Regions from separate parts of the Homo sapiens genome. Here region 2 is reported to be linked to region 1. Evidence: microRNA targets listed by miRTarBase, many of them from high-throughput screens and not tested one by one. Region 1 holds a microRNA gene; the other region holds the end of a gene's coding sequence.

Region 1 (4,272 bases):
TGTGGAGTGTATTCTGTGGGCCCAAGAAACAGCAACAGATCCCCAGAACAGATGACAGCCCTAAAGAAAGGCTGCTTTCCTGAGCATCCCTGGGGCTAGAAAGAGTGTGGATCAGGTGCTTCCTATTGGGCTGGGCCTGCAGAGGGGACAAGAGGGGCCAGTCTTACAGCCACCCAGACCATACTTTCCACACACATGCACATGCGCACACACACTTGCACACACACACACACACTTGCACACATATGCATGCACATGCCACCAGATCTCAGCCAGCACAGAAAGGCTCTCCCAGCCTTAGGTGGCTTATGCATTTTCTGAAACTAACTGTGGGAAAAGGGCTTGGGGAACCATCCCATGTGCCTGCACCAAATGCTGTGTGGGTGGGGCAGGACACAAGCCCTACACTGACACCTCCCAGAAATCAGGGAATCAGAGCTTGAGAGATTGTCCAGTAAAAGTTGGAACCCTCAACACCCCTTGACTCTGCCCAGGAGGAGCAACCTCAGAAGCCCCCCCAAACCTCCTCTCAGAGACCTGCCGAGTAGGAGGCTTCTCTCTCTACTCTCCTCCCCGCAAAAAAGAGGCCAGAAAAGAGGATGATTGGCTAACTCAGAGGTGCCCTGATGGAGGGGAGCAAACAAGGGGACTTCCAAGGAGAATTCCCTAGCCCACCTGAAAGACCCCTACCCAGAGTGGTGAGGGGCAGCTTAGGAGCACTGACGCAAGGGGGAGAGACCAGGCTGGCTTCCCTCTACGTAGTAAGTTCCTGGGGTGTGCGCCCCTGCCCCAGACAGCAGAGAAATCGCCTGACTGGGAGATGGAGAAGAGGGGCCACCTTCTCATGCCACCCCGCCGCCAATCCTCCAGGCACACTCGGGCGCTTGACCTGCTGAAGCCTGTAGCCTCAGGTCCAGTGAGGAGCTCACGGGACAGAGGGCCCTACCAGAGCCACGAAAACCGGAGGGGGGGACCTCCGCCCAAGGCAGGCGTCTCTGCGCGCCCGCTGGGGCCCTGGTCCTGCAGTTGGCTTCTCCCGACACGTTCCTTCGCTGCCGAAAGCGATTCGCCCGCGCTCTACCGAGCCCAGCCAGCTCCTACCTCGGCCCGGGCGGCGAGCGCTGTCTCCGTCCCGAGAAGAAGTTTCGCGGCTGGTCCCGGGGCGGCAGGCGCACGGGACGCTGGCGGCGGCGGCGGCTTCCGACTTGGGCTCAGACCCCGCCGCTCCAGACAAGTCCCCGCGACTGCGACAGTGTCTCGGGCAGTTCAGCTCCCCAGACGGGAGACAGACCCTCGCGACCTGGTTCAGGCCTTGCCCTGGGGGACACTGCAGTCCAAGGCGAAAGGAGACTTGCTCCCGGCCTCTGGGTCCCTAGGTCAAGGCACCTCCCCGCCCCGCCGCCCCTGAGCCCAAGTCGCCAACCCCGCGCCGCGCGCAGCGAGGGATCAGAAGGTCTCGGACGCCGCGGCAGGGCCGGCCAGGGCCCCACGAGTTAGGGAGTTGCCCCGCACCCCTAAACGCTCAGCACCCATTTACGGTTGAAAGTACGCACTTGACGCGTCCGGGCGCCTCCGCGGTGAGTCGCGCCGCCGCTCTCGGGGTCCGCGAAGGTGGCTCAGTTCGGGCGCTCCAGTCTCGACGTTCCCGGGGTAGAGAGCAACGTCCGGGGACGAACGGGACGGGTGCGCCCAGCGGCCGGGGCTGCGCTGGGCGAGGCAAGCGGCGAGAGGGGAGCGCTCCGGCGTTCAGGCAACAGCTACCCCTAGTGGGAGAGCCGCCCGGGGCCGGCGCCGCCCCGCGCCCGCTGCCCCGCGCCCCACGCCCGTGGCGCCCCGCGCCCGGGTCGGCTGGGGGCGCAGGGCCGGCGCCGCTTTCCCCAGCTCTCCGGTCTCCGGCGCCCGGCGGTAACCCGCCCGCGGGCTCTGCCCTCCGCACCTCTCAGCCCGGCCCCGGCGGCCGCTGACCCAGGAACCGCGGCGCCCCGCTGGAACGAGATGGGACGGGGCGGGCGCGGCCAGGGCGGCGCGGGCTGGGGCGGCGCGCGGCAGCCTCGGGCAGCGGCGGGGGGCGCGGAGCGCGGTGTGCGTGGCGGGGCGGTGCGGGGGGCGGCCGTGTGCGAGGCGCGAGTGTGAGCGCGCGCGGGAGGCGGGCGGGCGGGCTCCGGCAGGCGAGCGGCGCCCGCGGGCGAGCCAGGAAGGCGGCGGGAACGCAAAGTTGCCTCCTCGCTGGCCCGCGTCCTCGGTGGGGCGGGAGCCGGGGCCACCGAAGCGGCGGCCGCGGACCCGGCCTCCCGCGGCACCTGGGCAGCGGCCCCGCACGAGCGGCAGCGGCGTGGGCGGCGTTGGCGGCGGCGCGCGGGAAGCGAACCGGAGCTCCGGCGCGGCTCGGCGGCCGCCGGGGAGCTCGGCTCAGGTGCGCGGCGAGGGGGGCGCGGGCCGGAGCCAGGCGGCGGGGACCAGGGCGGCGCGCAGCGCTCGCGCCAGCTGGAGGACCTCCCCAGCGGACGCCCAGGTCCCTGGTCGGGCTCCCGGTCCCCAGCGGCAGCGGCTGCCGGAGTCCCCCGCCCCCGAGAGCTGGCTGCGGGGCCCGGGCCCGCCCCCACCGGCCCCAGGCCCGGCCGCTCCGCCCTCCGCCCGCCTGCGCCCGCCCTCAGCCCAAGATTTCTAGGGCATTGGCCGCGCTGCTGGGTGATCCCTCCGGGCTCAAGTTGCAAGGGGGCGGGCCGGGCCGGAGGTGGAGTCTCCCGCCAATTGAAGCCTCCGCTATAAATTGAACTCCCTGCACTGCTGAAGCCCAGATGCCTCGCCAGGCCACGTCGCGGTTGGTGGTCGGAGAGGGCGAGGGGTCCCAGGGGGCTTCGGGGCCTGCAGCCACCATGCTCCGCTCCCTGCTGCTTCACTCCTTGAGGCTCTGCGCCCAGACCGCCTCGTGCCTCGTGCTCTTCCCGCGCTTCCTCGGCACGGCCTTCATGCTCTGGCTTCTCGATTTCTTGTGTATCCGCAAGCATTTCCTGGGCCGCCGCCGCCGGGGGCAGCCCGAGCCCGAAGTGGAGCTCAACAGTGAAGGCGAGGAGGTGCCTCCCGATGACCCGCCCATCTGCGTGTCCGACGACAACCGCCTGTGCACCCTGGCGTCGCTCAAGGCGGTGTGGCATGGCCAGAAGTTGGATTTCTTCAAGCAGGCGCACGAGGGCGGTCCGGCGCCCAACTCCGAGGTGGTTCTGCCCGACGGCTTCCAGAGCCAGCACATCCTCGACTACGCGCAAGGGAACCGCCCGCTGGTTCTCAATTTCGGCAGCTGCACCTGACCACCGTTCATGGCGCGCATGAGCGCCTTCCAGCGCCTGGTCACTAAGTACCAGCGCGACGTCGACTTCCTCATCATCTACATCGAGGAAGCGCACCCCTCCGACGGCTGGGTCACCACGGACTCTCCCTACATCATCCCACAGCACCGGAGCCTGGAGGACCGGGTCAGCGCAGCGAGGGTACTGCAGCAAGGTGCACCCGGCTGCGCTCTGGTCCTCGACACCATGGCCAACTCCAGCAGCTCGGCCTATGGCGCCTACTTCGAGCGTCTCTATGTCATCCAGAGTGGCACTATTATGTACCAGGGCGGCCGTGGCCCCGACGGCTACCAGGTCTCTGAGCTGCGCACTTGGTTGGAACGCTATGATGAGCAACTGCACGGCGCTCGGCCCCGGAGGGTGTAAACATCCAACGGACAATTGACTGAACTTGGTGGGCTGGGCCTTCGAGCCTTCGAAGCCCACGTGCAAGCGCCTCAAACCAAGTCACGCTTGGCGAGGCCCCAGTGACACTGATGTGCTGAGCCACCATTTCAGACTGAGTCTGCACCCTCAGCCACATGAACAATCTCCCCTACCTCCCTGGGACTCTGCTTCTGTAACTGTCTCATTCACACCTGCCTGGCTCACTGGAAATCCTCTTTTGAGCGCGGGATATGGCTTGCCCTTGTCCGTGTGCCCCCAGGACTTTGCCTCTACAGCATTTTCTTACACCCCCTCCCCAGCGTGCCCTCAGCCAAGTGCTTTGGCCCGGTGCTTCCCGCAGCTGCACAGAGACCTTGGCCACGCCCGCGCGCCCTGAGCGCAGCTGGGTTCCAGGAGACTCTCAGCTCAGCTGAGCTAGTTGCCTGGCACCCACCTGTCGCGCGCGGAGAGGGGGTTCCCTGTTGCTTTTGTGTCTGTTTCCTGTCCCTGGTAGGGGAAGTGATGTCGTGGATGGGGAGGGGTGGGCAGGGTAGTTTCC
Region 2 (4,125 bases), not on the chromosome of region 1:
GCGTGAGCCACTGTGCCCAACCAATTTTTACTTTTTAAATGGAGACGGGGTCTCGCCATATTGTCCAGGCTGGTCTCAAACTCCTGAACTCAAGCGATCCTCCCGCCTCAGCCACCCCAAGTGCTGGGATTACAGGAGCGAGTCACCGCGCCCCACCGTCCACTCTCTTAAACCTCCTGTTGGTAACAGATGTGAACTTGTTGACAAGAGCCTTGGGGCCCATTCCTTTCAACATGGGCTGTTAAGGGAGAGGAAATTCCCTAACCACTGGGTCCAGTGCTTTTCCCTACCATCTGGAAGTTCTGCTTGGGAGGAGCTGGGCATTGTAGCTGCAGAGCCTGGGTCCAGCCTGAAGCCCCTCGTCAGTAACAGTCTTCATCGCGGAGGAAGCAGGTGCTCAGCAACAAGCCTGCAGAAGTGCTTACCCCCGTCTCTTCCTCCCCTCAGGGTTCCCAGTTTGTCGAGTGGGCCTCGGCAGGAAACCTCAAACCGGTGTGGGCGAGCAGGGGCTGCCCGCGGGCCTGGGACCAGGAGGCCGAGGGGGCAGGCCCAGAGCTGGGGCTGCGAGTGGCGCGGACCAAGGCCCTGTGGCTGCCTATGGGGGACTGATGCCTGAGCGCCACCTACTGCATTTTGGACACCTCACACCAAGGGGAGATGCACCCCACAGACACCTGGGACTTTCCCCTTCTGGTTCCTGTGTCTCCCAATAAACTCTCTGACCAACCCTAGCTGTGCTTCTGCGAGAAGAAAGGGTGTAGCAACTTCTGGCAGATATGAGGCTTTTTTCTTTTTTTTTTTTTTTTTTGAGACAACGTCTGGCTCTGTCACCCAGGCTGGAGCGCAGTGGCACAATCTCGGCCCACTGCAGCCTCGACCTCTGGGGCTCAAGGGATCCTCATGCCTCAGCCTCATATGTAGCTGGGGCCACAGACATGCACCACCACACCTGGCTCGAGGCCATTTTAGTTCTGAGGTTGAGCAGCTCAGGAGCCGGCTCCAGCACGGTGCTGTGTTTGTGAAACAGAGAAAGGGGACCCCCGAGGACCCCAGACAGGGCCTTAGGACTCTCATATCTTCTTGTCTTCTCCATCTGGTGGCTCTTGCTCTCTGGTTTTCTCTACCTTTTCATGGCCCCAGAATCCATATGCAGTAAAGGAACTCTCTGGAATAAAATTAAAGTCCTCCTATATGACTTTTGTCAATTTCCATGATGTAAATGCTCCCACCGTGCCGGATTTCAAGGTACAGGTGATTAAACAACTGCCTGCGAGATCCTGAATTGTTAACAGGTCAGCTCCCATGAGCCAATACGAGCCGCTTCAGCACACCACTGCCTTAGGATTCTGGTTGTGGGTGGGTTTTTTTGGTTTGTTTTTTGTTTTTTCGAGACAGAGTCTCTCTGTCGGCCAGGCTGGAGTGCAGCGGGGTGATCTCGGCTCACTGCAACCTCCGCCTCCCAGGTTCGAGCGATTCTCCTGCCTCGGCCTCCAGAGTAGCTAGAATTACAGGCTCGCGCCACCACACCCAGATAATTTTTTGTATTTTTAGTACAGACGGGGTTTCACCATCTTGGCCTGGCTGGTTTCAAACTCCTGACCTCAAGCGGTCCGCCTGTCTTGGTCTCCCCAAAGTGCTAAGATTACAGACTTAAGCCACTGCGCACGACTGTTGATTTTTAAATAAAGGATCTTGCTCTGTTTTTTAGGCTGTAATACAGTGGCGCAGTCACAGCTTACTGAACCCACCCTCGACCTGGGCTCAATCCTCCCACCTCGGCCGGGCGTGGTGGCTCACGCCTATAATCCCAGCACTTTGGGAGGCCGAGGCAGGTGGATCATGAGGTCAGGAGATCAAGACCATCCTGGCTAACACGGTGAAACCCCGTCTCTACTAAAAATACAAAAAAATTAGCTGGGCATGGTGGCGGGCGCCTGTAGTCCCAGCTACTTGGGAGGCTGAGGCAGAAGAATGGCGTGAACCCGGGAGGTGGAGCTTGCAGTGAGCCGAGATCGAGCCACTGCACTCCAGCCTGGGCGAAAGAGTGAGACTCCGTCTCAAAAAAAAAAAAAAAAAATCCTCCCACCTCAGCCTCCTGAGCAGCTGGGACCACAGGCACGCACCACCATGCCTGGCTAATTTTTTTTTTTTTAATAGGCAGAGTCTACCTACGTTGCTCAGGCTGGTCTTGAACTCCTGGCCTCAAGCGATCCTCTCGCCTCAGCCTTTCAAAGTGTGGGACTGCAGGCATCAGCCACCACACCTGAAGTAGAATTCTTTTTGATGTAAGAAACCCACTCTTACTAGTTTAGGATAAAAGGGAGTTTTCAGAGGCCAGGCTCGGTGACTCAGGCCTGTAATCCCAACACTTTGGGAGGCCGAAGTAGGCGGATCACCTGAGGTCAGGAGTTTGAGAGCAGCCTGGCCAACACAGTGAAACCCTGTCTGTACTAAAAATACAAAAATTAGCTGGGTGTGGTGGCGGGCACCTGTAATCCCAATTACTCAGGAGGCTGAGGCAGAAGAATCACTCGAACCCAGGAGGCAGAGGTTGCAGTGAGCTGAGAGCACACACTTCACTCTAGTCTGGGCAACAGAGCAAGGCTCCATCTCAAAGAAAAAAAAAATGAGAGTTTTCCGGACTAGGTGTGGCAGTTCACACCTGTAATCCCAGCACTTTGGGAGGCCGAGGTGGGTGGATCACTTGTCAGAAGTTTGAGACCAGCCTGGGCACCATGGTGAAATCCCGTCTCTACTAAAATTATAAAAATTAGCCAGGCGTGGTGGCGGCACCTGAAATCCCAGCTATCTGGGAGGCAGGAGAATTGCTTGAACCTGGGAGGCAGAGGGGGAGCTTGCAGTGAGCCAAGATCGTGCCACTGCACTCCAGCCTGGGCAACACAGCGAGACTCGGTCTCAAAAAAAAAAGAGAGAGAGAGAGGAGTCTTCTGGAAGGCTACAGAGATTCCCTAGAGGCAATAGGGCGATAGGGCAGGACACACATTGAGGGGCCCCAGGACTTGGTCAGGAAGGAGCTAGAGCAGGTCCTTTGTCCATGGGCCACATGAGCTATTGGGGCTTGTATCTCTGCCTCTCTGCTTCATTTAAATCTTTCTAGCCAGATGGAAGGTCTGACCATTGGGTGCGACAAGGCAGCTAACCCAGGCTGAACAGGAAGTGAGGCAGGCAGAGGGATCAGGGAAGGGAAATGGATGATGAAGGCCAGGACGGGCGAGGCTTTGCTGCAGTAACACATAACCCCCGAATCTGCGTGGGCCACAACCACAACATTAGTTTGTTGCTTACACTCCCTGTGCTCATCCGGGGCTGGCAGGATCCCTGTGCTCCTCCGAGTGGCACAGGAAACTTGGCTGATAGAGGCGCTCTCTCCATGCATCCTCCACCATCCACTCCCCGGTCCCTTAGACTTCCATTCAGAAGTGACACCTGTCACCTCCACCCTCATGTGACTGGCCAAAGTGAGTGTGGCCATGTCCGAGTTCCCCAGGATGGGACCTCGAATCCTCCTGCTGGGGGGGTGGGGGCAGCAGATGTTTCAGGACAGTCTGCCACGGATCAGATGGGTGAGCAAGAGATTCAGGATGGGCGTGATGGGTCACACCTGTAATCCCAGCATTTTGGGAGGCCGAGGCAGGCTGATCACCTGAGGTCAGGAGTTCGAGATCAGCCTGGCCAACATAGTGAAACCTCGTCTCTACTAAAAATACAAAAATTAGCCGGGCATGGTGGCACGCACCTGCAATTCCAGCTACTTGGGAGCCTGAGGCACAAGAATTGCTTAAGCCCAGGAGGCGGAGGTTGCCGTGAGCCGAGACTGTGCCACTGCACTCCAGCCTGGGCAACAGAGTGAGACCCCATCTAAAAAAAAAAAATGCTTCAGAGATTCAGAGATCCACAGATGTGGAAGAGAGCTTCTATTTTGTCTCATGTACCACCTCACCCCTCAGTTTGGAGTTGGAGAAGCCGAGGCTTAGAGAGGTCAAGGGGCTGGCCAAGCTCCCACAGTGATAAAGCTAGTGCTAGGGCGACACCTGCCAGGCCCAATGTGACAAGATGCATCCTGAGTCCTGTGTGCCAAGCCTTGGCGGGGCAAAGTTGGGGCCC

What was found. Region 1 holds the annotated microRNA hsa-miR-1247-5p (ACCCGUCCCGUUCGUCCCCGGA, at 1,664-1,685, opposite strand). A microRNA usually pairs through its seed, bases 2 to 8, with sites in the 3' UTR of a target mRNA and lowers its output. Matches are read on the target gene's strand: a 7mer-m8 pairs with bases 2 to 8, a 7mer-A1 pairs with bases 2 to 7 and ends in A, and an 8mer does both.
Region 2: miRTarBase lists ALDH16A1 as a target of hsa-miR-1247-5p. The part of its 3' UTR that is shown has no 7-base or 8-base seed match.

The regions. Positions count from the first base shown.
Region 1 is chr14:101,558,699-101,562,970 of GRCh38, forward strand. It overlaps MIR1247 (microRNA 1247), which reads right to left and starts at 1,724; the gene lies at 1,589-1,724. DIO3 (iodothyronine deiodinase 3) reads left to right here and starts at 2,797. Exons shown (of 1, transcript NM_001362.4): 1 at 2,797-4,272. The coding sequence starts at 2,799. The coding sequence ends at 3,713. DIO3OS (DIO3 opposite strand upstream RNA) reads right to left here and starts at 1,724. Exons shown (of 2, transcript NR_152588.1): 1 at 1,554-1,724.
Region 2 is chr19:49,469,859-49,473,983 of GRCh38, forward strand. It overlaps ALDH16A1 (aldehyde dehydrogenase 16 family member A1), which reads left to right. Exons shown (of 17, transcript NM_153329.4): 17 at 448-1,192. The coding sequence ends at 609. Among named protein-coding and RNA genes, the nearest start is that of FLT3LG, 2.3 kb to the right of the region's middle.